3 linked regions of the Homo sapiens genome follow. The protein of the gene in region 1 purifies or fractionates together with the protein of each later gene. This does not show direct contact. Each region holds a gene or a part of one and is shown on either strand. Other genes may lie near its edges. The genes, in order: NTAN1, PLAA and MAP4K5.

What was found.
Region 2: the proteins of NTAN1 (region 1) and PLAA fractionate together in Homo sapiens (co-fractionation; one large-scale study listed by BioGRID). This does not show direct contact.
Region 3: the proteins of NTAN1 (region 1) and MAP4K5 fractionate together in Homo sapiens (co-fractionation; one large-scale study listed by BioGRID). This does not show direct contact.

The regions. Positions count from the first base shown.
Region 1 is NC_000016.10:15,049,523-15,053,177, reverse strand, and holds part of NTAN1 (protein N-terminal asparagine amidohydrolase), read left to right. Parts: intron 1-3,655. UniProt on the Homo sapiens protein: N-terminal asparagine deamidase that mediates deamidation of N-terminal asparagine residues to aspartate. Required for the ubiquitin-dependent turnover of intracellular proteins that initiate with Met-Asn.
Region 2 is NC_000009.12:26,923,241-26,926,895, forward strand, and holds part of PLAA (phospholipase A-2-activating protein), read right to left. Parts: intron 3,321-3,655; coding exon 3,153-3,320; intron 2,721-3,152; coding exon 2,585-2,720; intron 108-2,584; coding exon 1-107. UniProt on the Homo sapiens protein: Plays a role in protein ubiquitination, sorting and degradation through its association with VCP. Involved in ubiquitin-mediated membrane proteins trafficking to late endosomes in an ESCRT-dependent manner, and hence plays a role in synaptic vesicle recycling.
Region 3 is NC_000014.9:50,421,262-50,424,690, forward strand, and holds part of MAP4K5 (mitogen-activated protein kinase kinase kinase kinase 5), read right to left. Parts: intron 1,916-3,429; coding exon 1,860-1,915; intron 1-1,859. UniProt on the Homo sapiens protein: May play a role in the response to environmental stress. Appears to act upstream of the JUN N-terminal pathway.

The sequences.
Region 1 (3,655 bases):
TTCAGTACAGTAGCCACGAGCCATCTGGTTACTTAGGATTTAACTTAAAAATCAATTAAAATTAGATAAAATTGAAACTCAGTTCCTCAGTTGCAGTAGCCACATTTCAAGTGCCGAGCAGACAGCATGGCTACTAATGAGACAGTGTGAATATAGACGGTGGCCATCCCAGCATGAAGTTCCTTTGGCCAGAGCTGTTTAGAGCCCTCCCTTAGTCACTCTTAACCAGTCACTGGGTACTCGGTAACCAGTCCTGCAACATCTTGGGTAATACGGTTCCACAGAGTCTACAAGATGCTCGCAGCGTAGCTTAGTTCCTGCTTTTATTATTTATTTATTTATTTTTTTTTTGAGAGACAGAGCCTTGCTCTGTCACCCAGGCTGGAGTGCAATGGCACGATCTTGGCTCACTACAACCTCTGCCTCCCAGGTTCAAGTGATTCTCCTGCCACAGCCTCCTGAGTATCAGACATCTGCCACCATGCCCGGCTAATTTTTGTATTTTTAGTAGAGATGGGGCTTCAACATGTTGGCCAGGCTGGTCTGAAACTCCTGACCTCAAGCGATCATCTCGCCTCGGCCTCCAAAGTGCTGGGATTACAGGCGTGAGCCAGTGTGTTGGGCCTCATAATTTCTTATATAGCATTGTGCTTTACAGTTCACAGATCACCTTCATGCCCCTCTCCTGTTTATAAAGGAAGAATTGATAAACAGGACAGCAGGGGTGAGGGTCACATGATCATCCCCCAGGTCACAGCTAGGTGATTGGCTAAGACACAGGTCAACAAGCCACAGCTCATGGGCCGGACCCTGCTTATGTATAGCCTATAGGCCAAGAATGGTCTTTATATTTCTCAAAGGTTGAGAAAAATCAAAATAATATTTTGTAACATGGGAAATGGTATTGAAATTAAAACTTCGGTGTCACCTATAAATAAAGTTTTATTGGAACACAGCCACATCTGTATTGTCTATGGCTGCTTTCACTTCATAATAACAGCAGAGTTGAGCAATTGTGACAGAGACTGCGGCCTTGTAGAACCCCAAATATTTACTGTCTGGCCTTTTTCAGAAAATCTGCTGGTCACTGGGTTAAGAGAATACTGCCATTGAATAGGAACTGGGAAATAGGGATGAGGGACTGAGGGAAAAGCTTTTTTTTTTTTAAGCAAATATTAGTGTCTAGAGCATATTAGAGGTTAAGAAAACTGGGACTACTTGCATATGAATTTATAAAGTAGGACTGTGTGGTTTTCCAAAGAAGGGAAGTTTGGCTAAACTCTTTTTACTACTTAAAAGAGCAAAAATTAGCCAAGTGTGGTGGCGTGCGCCTGTGGTTCCAGCTACTGCAAAGGAGGCTGAGGTGGGAGGATTGCTTGAGCCCAGGAGTTTGAGGTTGCAGTGAGCTATGATCTGGCCACAGCACTTCAGCCTGGGCAACAGAGTGAGGCCTTGTCTCTAAAAAAAAAAAAAAAAAAATTAAAAATAAAGTAGAGGCTGGGCACAGTGGCTCATGCCTATAATCCTAGCACAAGTGTGGTGGCGTGCGCCTGTGGTTCCAGCTACTGCAAAGGAGGCTGAAGCAGGAGGATCACCTGAGGCCAGGAGTTCGAGACCAGCCTGGGCAACACAGGGAGACCCCATCTCTACAAACAGTACAAAAACTAGCCAGGTGTGTCGGCTCATGCCTGTAGTTCCCAGCTCCTTGGGAGGCTGAGGTGGGAGGATTGCTTGAGGCCAGAGGCTGCAGTGAGCCACGATCTCGCCGCTGCACTCCAGCCTGGGAGACAGTAAGACCCTGTTTAAAAAAAGAAATTAAAAAATAGAGCAAAGCAGTCTACTGTTTTAGTTTTCTGGCATTCTCTCTTCTGATAATTTTTGCTTTTATTTCTTTGGGAAATCGTAGGAGCTGTGTTGAAGAGAGACATGATTTTTGGTCTTTGTGAAAGCAGTAATTAATTTCTCACAAATAGCTTTGCTTTTGAGTGGTGACCCAATTGTGAACATGAGTGTTAAAAATTCGCCTTTGCGCCCTCCCTTCTCTTCCCTTCCCTCAAAGAACAAAGCAGAAGGTAAGTATCTCAGGAGTAATCAAGAGGGAATTCTGAATTCTCCCCTGTTATTCTGAACTAAGATGAGGCAAGAAGTGGAATGAGAAAATGAGAGGCTGTCACCTGTACAGGTGTTCTGAGTTTTAGAGCAGTCACACCTGTTTCTCACTGACTTCTGGAGCAAGCAAGGCTGTCTTGCCCATCTAATTTTACACTGCAGTTCATTTAATCTTTAGTTTGTTTCTTAAATTAAGGGGCTTGTCTCATTTTCATTGATACCTTGCTTCCAGTTAATGGAAGTTTATAAACAGAAGAAAACACCATGTAAGTAATCAAGCTGATCATTATGTTTATTACATCTCTTCTTTTAGTTTAATCTTAATTTTTTTTTTTTTGAGGCAGGGTCTTGGTCTGTCACCCAGGCTGGAGTGCAGTGGTGCAATCATGGCTCGCTGCAGCCTCCACCTCCTGGCTGCAAGTGATCCTCCTACCTGAGCCTCCAGAGTAGCTGGGACTACAGGCACATGCCACCACACCCAGCTAATTTTTGTAATTTTTGTAGAGACAGGATCTTCCTTGTTGCCCAGGCTGGTTTTGAACTCTTAGGCTCAAGCAGTCCTCCCTCCTCAGCCTCCCAAAGTGCTGGAATTACAGTTGGGAGCCATCACACCCAGCTGCTCTTATGTTTTATTAAGTGAGCGCTAACCTAAATTAGCACCAGTCATGCGAAATGGCAAGAAGCTGATAGAAGACTAAGACTGCAAAACTGTCTTCCTGTGTAGGCAATACATACATACGTTGTCTAGACATTTGAGGAAGATTTTGTTCATCCAGGAGTTTGTTGCAAGTAAGAAGGAAATTATGATACATTGTAGTGTTGTATCAATTTAATATTTTGAAAAAGTTTTTGTTAAATAACCACTGAATTTTTAACCACTGAATTTTTTTTACAAGCTTACTAAATAAGTGTGTACAAACACTCAGATTATTGACACTTAGTATTAACATACCTTTCGTAAATTTGCCTTATCCATTTTGTTTTTGTATTCTAACAATAACTATGTGATAGAACATTGAGAGAAGAGAGGACAACAGCAACAGGAAATCACTCATGTTTGCTTTTTTGGCACAGCCATGGTTGTACTGGTGAAATTTCCTTCCAGTATTTTTCTCTATGGGTATAAGCATTTAATCATTGTTGTATTATGGCACATTTATAGCTCTTTAAAACATTTTTTATACTTTTGTATCTTGCTTTTCAATTAGCATTTCAAAACTCTTTTTCCCATAGTTTTCATTTCTCATGACTGTGCAGTTAGTGGCTGTGACTTGGTTCTGTGCCCAATTTACTTACCTTTTCCATTGCTGCTCCCAGCTTTTTGCCATTACAAATTACACAGGGGGCTGGGCATGGTGGCTCATGCTATAATCCCAGCACCTTGGGAGGCCAAGGCAGGTGGATCACTTGAGGCCAGGAGTTTGATACCAGTGTGGCCAACATGGCGAAACCCAGTTTCTACTAAAAATACGAAAAGCTGGGCATGGTGGCGCACACCTGTAATCCCAGCTACTGGGGAGGCTGAGGCACGAGAATCGCTTGAACC
Region 2 (3,655 bases), on another chromosome or scaffold:
TTTTAGAATCAATGGTTGCGTGAGACAGTTCTTTTTCAAAAGCCTTGATTTCTTCAGCACTTGCTGTTCGATCTTCTGATTCTGTAAACACTCTAATAATGCCATCACTGTAAGGAAAAATAAACTGATTTTAGAAGTCATTGCCATAATACATTAACATTATCACACCTGAATGATCCATAGTAAAAATAATCTGTGTTTGTGAATATGAGAAATATTAGCATGTTATTAATTGCTGATTACAGCACTGTGCTGACTTCAGCACATGCTACTCTATTATGTCAACTATTTAATAGAGAAGTTATTGACAAAGAACAGAGAAACATGTATTTTATACAATTTCCAAGTTAAATATTTACCATCATAAGAATCTAGAGCTATAGTATGTACTTTTAAAGTCAATATTTTTTAGTTATTACCATATAGAGAAGGGTAGTGGGCTAGTTTAGTTTATAAAGGGCTCAAAGACCCAATGTAGGGCTTAAAATTAGCAGATGTTCAGTAGACAAATATGGTCATCCTTTACTATGCCAGTAACTAGCAATGTAACTTCAATCAAGGAAAAAAAATGGCCTAATGTTTGGATTAGATGGCCGTCCTTAACCTCTTTTCTCAGAAAAATTACTTTATCTCCATGATTTCTTAATTCGAAATTCTGAGATAGGAGAAGCAAATTAGACACTTCCAACTGTATTAATCCTGGCCCATTCTACAGGAAACCTGTTTCTAACTTATTCGTCCACAAACATGTACATCACTCGTTCTATTGGTTTTTCTTCATATGCTTAGGAGGGAAAAAAACTAAGCCTATAAATCAGCCTCTGTCCCAGCCAAAAAATAAAACACCCACTTTATTAGACCCTCTATCCCTTATAGCTGTCACCTTCTTTTTCTTCTCTTTTTCTTTGAGACAGGGTCCAACTCTGTCACCTAGGCTGGAGTGCAGGGGCGGCAATCACAGCTCACTGCAACCTCAAATTCCCGGGCCCAAGCAATCCTCCCACCTCAGTCTCCTGAGCAGCTGGGACTACAAATGCATGCCACCATGCCCAGCTAATTAAATATTTTTTTTGTATGGAGACAGGGTCTCGGTAGCTCACCCAGGATAGTCTCGAACTCCTGAGCTCAAGCGATCCTCCCACCTGGACCTACCAAAGTGCTGGGATTACAAGTGTGAGCCACAGCAGCTGGCCTTCTTATTGCTTTCAATGCTAGAGTAGCATTATAGAGTAGTCTATGATCCTTCGTCCATCTCCTCCAACCCTTTATTTCCTCTTATTTGCCTTTTTTTCTATCATTTTCTATTCAAAATGTGATTGATGCCAAAAGTCACTAATAACATCTTTCAAACCAAATCCAAATGCTTTTCAAACTTTCCATTCTTTGACTCCTCAAACACTTTTGACACTGATGACAATCTCCCTCCAAAATCTCTCCTTTTCTGTCTCCCAGAAATTTCAACATTTGAATTCCTTTGTTCTGTTTAACCTACTAACTTCTTTTTCTCTACTAATGGTATATCATAAAACTTAGTTCTTAGTCTTCTGTTCCTCCCCTGTATTTCTTCCCTCAGAGAATGGTGTTCTATGCTTTGCTTTTGGAAGCTTTGCGAAATCTTTATCTTAGCCTCAGTTCTTATACTAAGCTCCAGTTCAAATGACCATGATCCACTGGCATGAGTGTGGCTCACCACCACTGCAGACCTCAGGAAGTCTAAGGCCACGGTCATCACCTTCTGTACCCAACCAATTCTCCCACTTCTCCATTTTTATTAATGAAGATTTCCAATCACTAACAGTTTGAAGCTTTATCCTTTTCTTTCATACTTTTTCTGATTGTTTTCCTTCTGGATTATCTCATTTACTTATTTCCTACCCATTAGCATTGTGGGGCCAATGTCTTATAACTTCACACTCCTTCTGTACTTGCTTTCTAATTTACTTTCCTGTCCATTGTCACCAGCAGTTAAATCCAATCTACATATTTAGTAATTCATAAGTTCTGCTTCAATCCTATTTCTTGCTCAAGAACTACAACCCTTCAACCCCAGGCAATGAATCTAAAAAATGCCTGGCATGAAAGCACTAAAGGTTCTCCACAGTTAAGCCCCATTGTACCTATTATCTCAGCATTAGTACTCCACCATTTTCCTTCACTTCCTATGCATGCTGCATTCATTCTCATGAAGGAAACTTATACTCTTAGCTTTGACAAAAATTTGCGTATCTTTTCTCACTCATAATCTTTCAAAATCCAGTTCAAATTTCTTCTTCTACAGAAAGTTTTCCCACACCAATCTCTACCTTCTCTAACTTCTTTTGTAGTCAATATCTTGACTGCACAATTGCAGTACAATACTGGTATATCATGCATCATTGACTGCACAATTGCAGTACAATACTGGTATATCATGCATCCCTTAGTATGAAAGCTATAATATCTACTACTGTTTTGTTTAGTAATTGAAGTGTCCATATAGTCTCCTCAAGTCACGTGAAATTCCTTATGGCTTATCTCTGTACACTCTAGTTCCTACTGAAGGCCTAGACATATAACATTTAATGATTGACTAGAATATAAATACCTCGCACCAACCACAATGTCACCATTGTCGAGCACACAGCAGCACCATATAGACTGAGCTGGAAGTCGGATAGTTTGAGCACATTCCCCATGTTTCCAGATTCTCAGAGATCTGTCCTCTGCTGTTGTCACAAAGTCTAAAATTAATGAATATAGGAAGTATTAGTTTGAATAAAATTAAGTACATTTATACATACCATCTTTCTAGATACACTGACTTTTTGAAACCCAGAGACTTTCAAAATTACAGTTTTAAATTTCATATGTTTGTCACTTACAACATATACAACTTCAAAATCACATTTTTTATTCATGTCACATCTTACAAAGTGTTTCTTCAGATACCCAAGAACTTTTTACAGCACAACATAAATCTGAATTAATATAAAGATGGCCATACAATTTTCTTCTTTGTAAACAGGAGAAAGATACTTAATGAAATAAATTTACTAAATTATTCAAGTCATAGATAGTAAATTAAGTAATCAGCTCTCCTCCCTCCATCTCACAAATGGGATGGAATAATGCTCAATACAAAACATTAAATAAATAGCATAAAATAATCTTACCTCTACAATTTGGAAAAACGGATATGCTATAAATATAATTTGTATGTCCATAATATACTTCAAGACACTCGCCAGTGATTTGCCACCTTCTAATACTAGCATCATTTGCACAGGAAAGAAATTCTGTTTCACTCAAAATTGCCAAACCTCTTACACAGTCTTCATGCCCTGCATTAAAAAACAATAATGCAAATCAATAAAACTGATAATTTGGCTGATGGCTCTATACATTTTACTAACATTATAAAACATATCAGTGAGTAGTAAAAATTAATTTTCAAGTTAGAGAAATCTTTTTTTTTGTTGAAAGCCTGATAACCAAAATTTGTATTTAAGGTTTAGCAATATTTTTTTATCACCAGTCTTCAGAAGTTATTTTACATTCATCCTACCTTCTCCAAAAACCTCCAGAAATAGTATTTTGACCCCAATAATTTGTTTTCACCTGAAAATTCATTTTTAATTTTTCTTCCCCAACAAGAGTAATTTATAAAATATATAAT
Region 3 (3,429 bases), on another chromosome or scaffold:
TATTTTTATTTTTTTAGATGGAGTTTTGCTCTTGTCGCCCAGGCTGGAGTGCAATGGCGTGATCTCGGCACACTGCAACCTCCGCAACCTGGGTTCAAGTGATTCTCCTGCCTCAGCCTCCCGAGTAGCTGGGATTAAAGGCATGCACCATCAAGCCCAGCTTATTTTTTTTGTATTTTTAGCAGGGACAGGGTTTCTGCATGTTGGTCAGGCTGGTTTCGAACTCCTGGCCTCAGGTGATCCACCTGCGTCGGCCTCCTGAAGTTCTGGGATTACAGGCATGAGTCACCGCGCCCGGCAACAAAATAAATTTTTAACCACTTGTAAAGATAAAACAAAAACTCTGTTTAGATATGTATCTTAAAAACAAGGAGATGCCCATGTAAGAGACAAGCAGAGCAAGGCAACAGTCTGAAGGAAGTAGTTTTTCAGAGCAAATAGTGATAGAGTGGACAGAGAATACGAACAGGGAAGGGAAAAGTGATGCACAAAGCTCTGAGCAGAGTAGGTAGAAGGAAACAAGCAACCCAGAGAAACGGCCTCTGATGCCAACCCTCTACCAAGCTGAATTCTCTCACACTTGGTTTCATTAAAGGATTATCTACACCAGGATCAATGGATGATCCACAATTCTTTTTTTTTTTTTTTTAGACAGAGTCTTGCTCTGTCGCCCAGGCTGAAGTGCAGTGGTGCGATCTTGGCTCACTGCAACCTCCGCCTCCTGGGTTCAAGCAATTCTCCTGCTTCAACCTTCCGAGTAGCTGGGATTACAGGGACACGCCACCATACCTGGCTACTTTTTCTATTTTTAGTAGAGACAGCTGATTCACCTGCCTCGGCCTCCCAAAGTGCTGGAATTACAGGCATCAGCCACTGTGCCCGGCCCACAGTTCTTTTCTCAGCCCTTCCTGGAGAAGCAAAGAGCCTCTCATTTTAGTTCTAGAGTCATTTACCAGATGATCCTCAAATTCTCTTTTTGTTGGTTGGACGACTTACTAAGTTGCCATGCTTTGTGGGCTTACCTTTTCTATTCACTAAGGTAGTCATCACTTTTTGAAAATTCCTGTTCTCCTATAAAACTCTCTTCAAAATTTTTATGGAGTTATAACTCCATTTCCCCCTCCTTCCTCAAGTATCTAAAACTTAAGCAATGTGAACCTGAAGACCAGAGGTTCCCAATCCTTGTCTCAGGACTAATGCATACCACTATAGCCAATTTTGCTTTAGTAACAACTTTTGGTGGGAAAAGAGGAAGGAATGGGTATTTTATTAGCTATAGAAGTAGACAGTTGAGCGACAGAGTGAGACCGTCTTAAAAAAAAAAAGAAAAAAAGAAGTAGGCAGTAGATTTTGGAAATCAAAAGCTACAGCTACTACATTTTTTTCATAAGATGACAGTTTTGCAACTTGTCTTTTATTTGGGGTAAAAAGAGACCATATAATTCTTTTTAACTTAGATTAACTTTAGAAACTGAACCAGGCATTTTCTAATATAAAAGCAAATATCATCAAGAGGTACATATTCCTAATAGTTAATGGAAGGCAGCACACCATGAAGAAATGAAGACAAACGGGCCCGAAATAGCTCTCATAGTACTAGGGACATCAACATCTATATCAACACATTTTGTCTCAGTTGAATATAACTGTCTCTAGAATAACAATCCTCACACTGACAAAAGGTTGCTTAGTTAACTTATTAAAATATTACTAATTCTCTCAGTAAAGACACAGAGAAATGTATCTAAGTCAATGAGCTTCTAAGAGTTTTGTTTGAAACAATTACAGACTGACAGTATAATTAAGAGTATGATCTTTGAACTCCTTTGGTAATTAAATTAATACAACCAAACTATTACCTGTCTGATCCTAATAAGCGGAAAACTCTTGTTTCATCTGAAATCTCCTGGGTAACCTAGGAAAGAAAAATACCTATCAGTAACATCTTACTCCCCATATTGCCTTAATAACAATTTAAAATTAATTTAGAGCAATTATTAACACAATAAATATTTTTTGGTAGACTTAATTCCTCAAATAAAAGAAATTTTAGTAAGTTTTTTGATTGCATATTATTAGAAATGAACCCACATTTATGGAACATCTAGTATGGGTCAGGTACTCTACTTAGAAGAACTCTTTGTGATATGCATTATAATTCTCATATCATTGAAGAAGAAACTAAGACTCCAAGAGGTTAAATAAGTTGTTCAATCTCATAGAATGGGTAGACTCAAGACTTGAATACAGGTTTGTTGGACTGCAGAGCTCCTTTGGGGGCCAAGGCTTGAGGTCAGGAGTTGAGACCAGCCTGGGCAACAAAGTGAGACCCTGTATCTACAGAAGTATTTAAAAATTTTACCTGGGCACAGTGGTGCATGCCTGTAGTCCTAGCTGCTCAGAAGGCTGAAGTAGGAGGATCGCTTGAGCCCAGGAGTTCAAGGATACAGTGAACTATGATTGCACCACTGCATTCCAGCTTGGGCAACAGAGCAAGACCCTGTATACTCTGTTTTCTACAAAGCTGCAGAGGGTGCTCAGCCATGTGCAGGTACTATGCCAAAGTGCCCGCAGTTTGTATACCTGGGGGCAGGCCTTAACCAACATGGGATAGCAGTTGCTGCATAAATGCTCAAGCCTCGTCATCTACAAATGAGTCAATTCTGAGGTGTATTTTACCCCATTCCTCAGTGGTCCCTACTGGATTAAGCCCCAGTTGCTCTTAGTGGGAACTAGCTTATTAATGTGTTCTTTATTGGCTTTTTGCCCCTCTTTATTCTCCATTCCTCATTCCATCACTTGTCTTCTGGAATCTATTCCCAAATACACTATCTGTATTTGAGTCCTTGTCTTAGGGTCTACTTTTAGAGGAACCCACACTAAGATATTGTAGATATAAAGTAAGTTAAAAAAAAAAAAAAGTCTGGTATCAAGGAGTTTGCAGTCTACCTGGGAAAATAGAATTAATAAGCTTGAATCAGAAAATAAATTAGGTGTTATACTAGTTGGAGCTGATTTTTCAGAGTATTAAGTTCAGAGATGTTCTAATCATTGTGCCTGGAATGACTGAGTATTACTTTATGAAAGAGGTCAAGACTTTAGCTAGGCCCAAGTTGAAGGATGAGAACATAAACTGAAAAAAAGGTAATCAAGACGAATTAAAAATAGGCCGGGTGTGGGGCTCACATCTGTAATCCCGGCACTTTGGGAGGCCAAGGCAGGTGGATCACGTGAGGTCAGAAGTTCGAGACCAGCCTGGCCAACACGGTGAAATCCCATCTCTACTAAAAATACAAAAATTAGCTGGGTGTGTTGGTGCATGCCTGTAATCCCAGCTACTCAGGAGGCCGAGGCAGGAGAATCGCTTGAACCCAGGAGGTGGAGGTTGCAGTGAGCTGAGATTGTGCCGCTGCACTCCAGCCTGGGCGA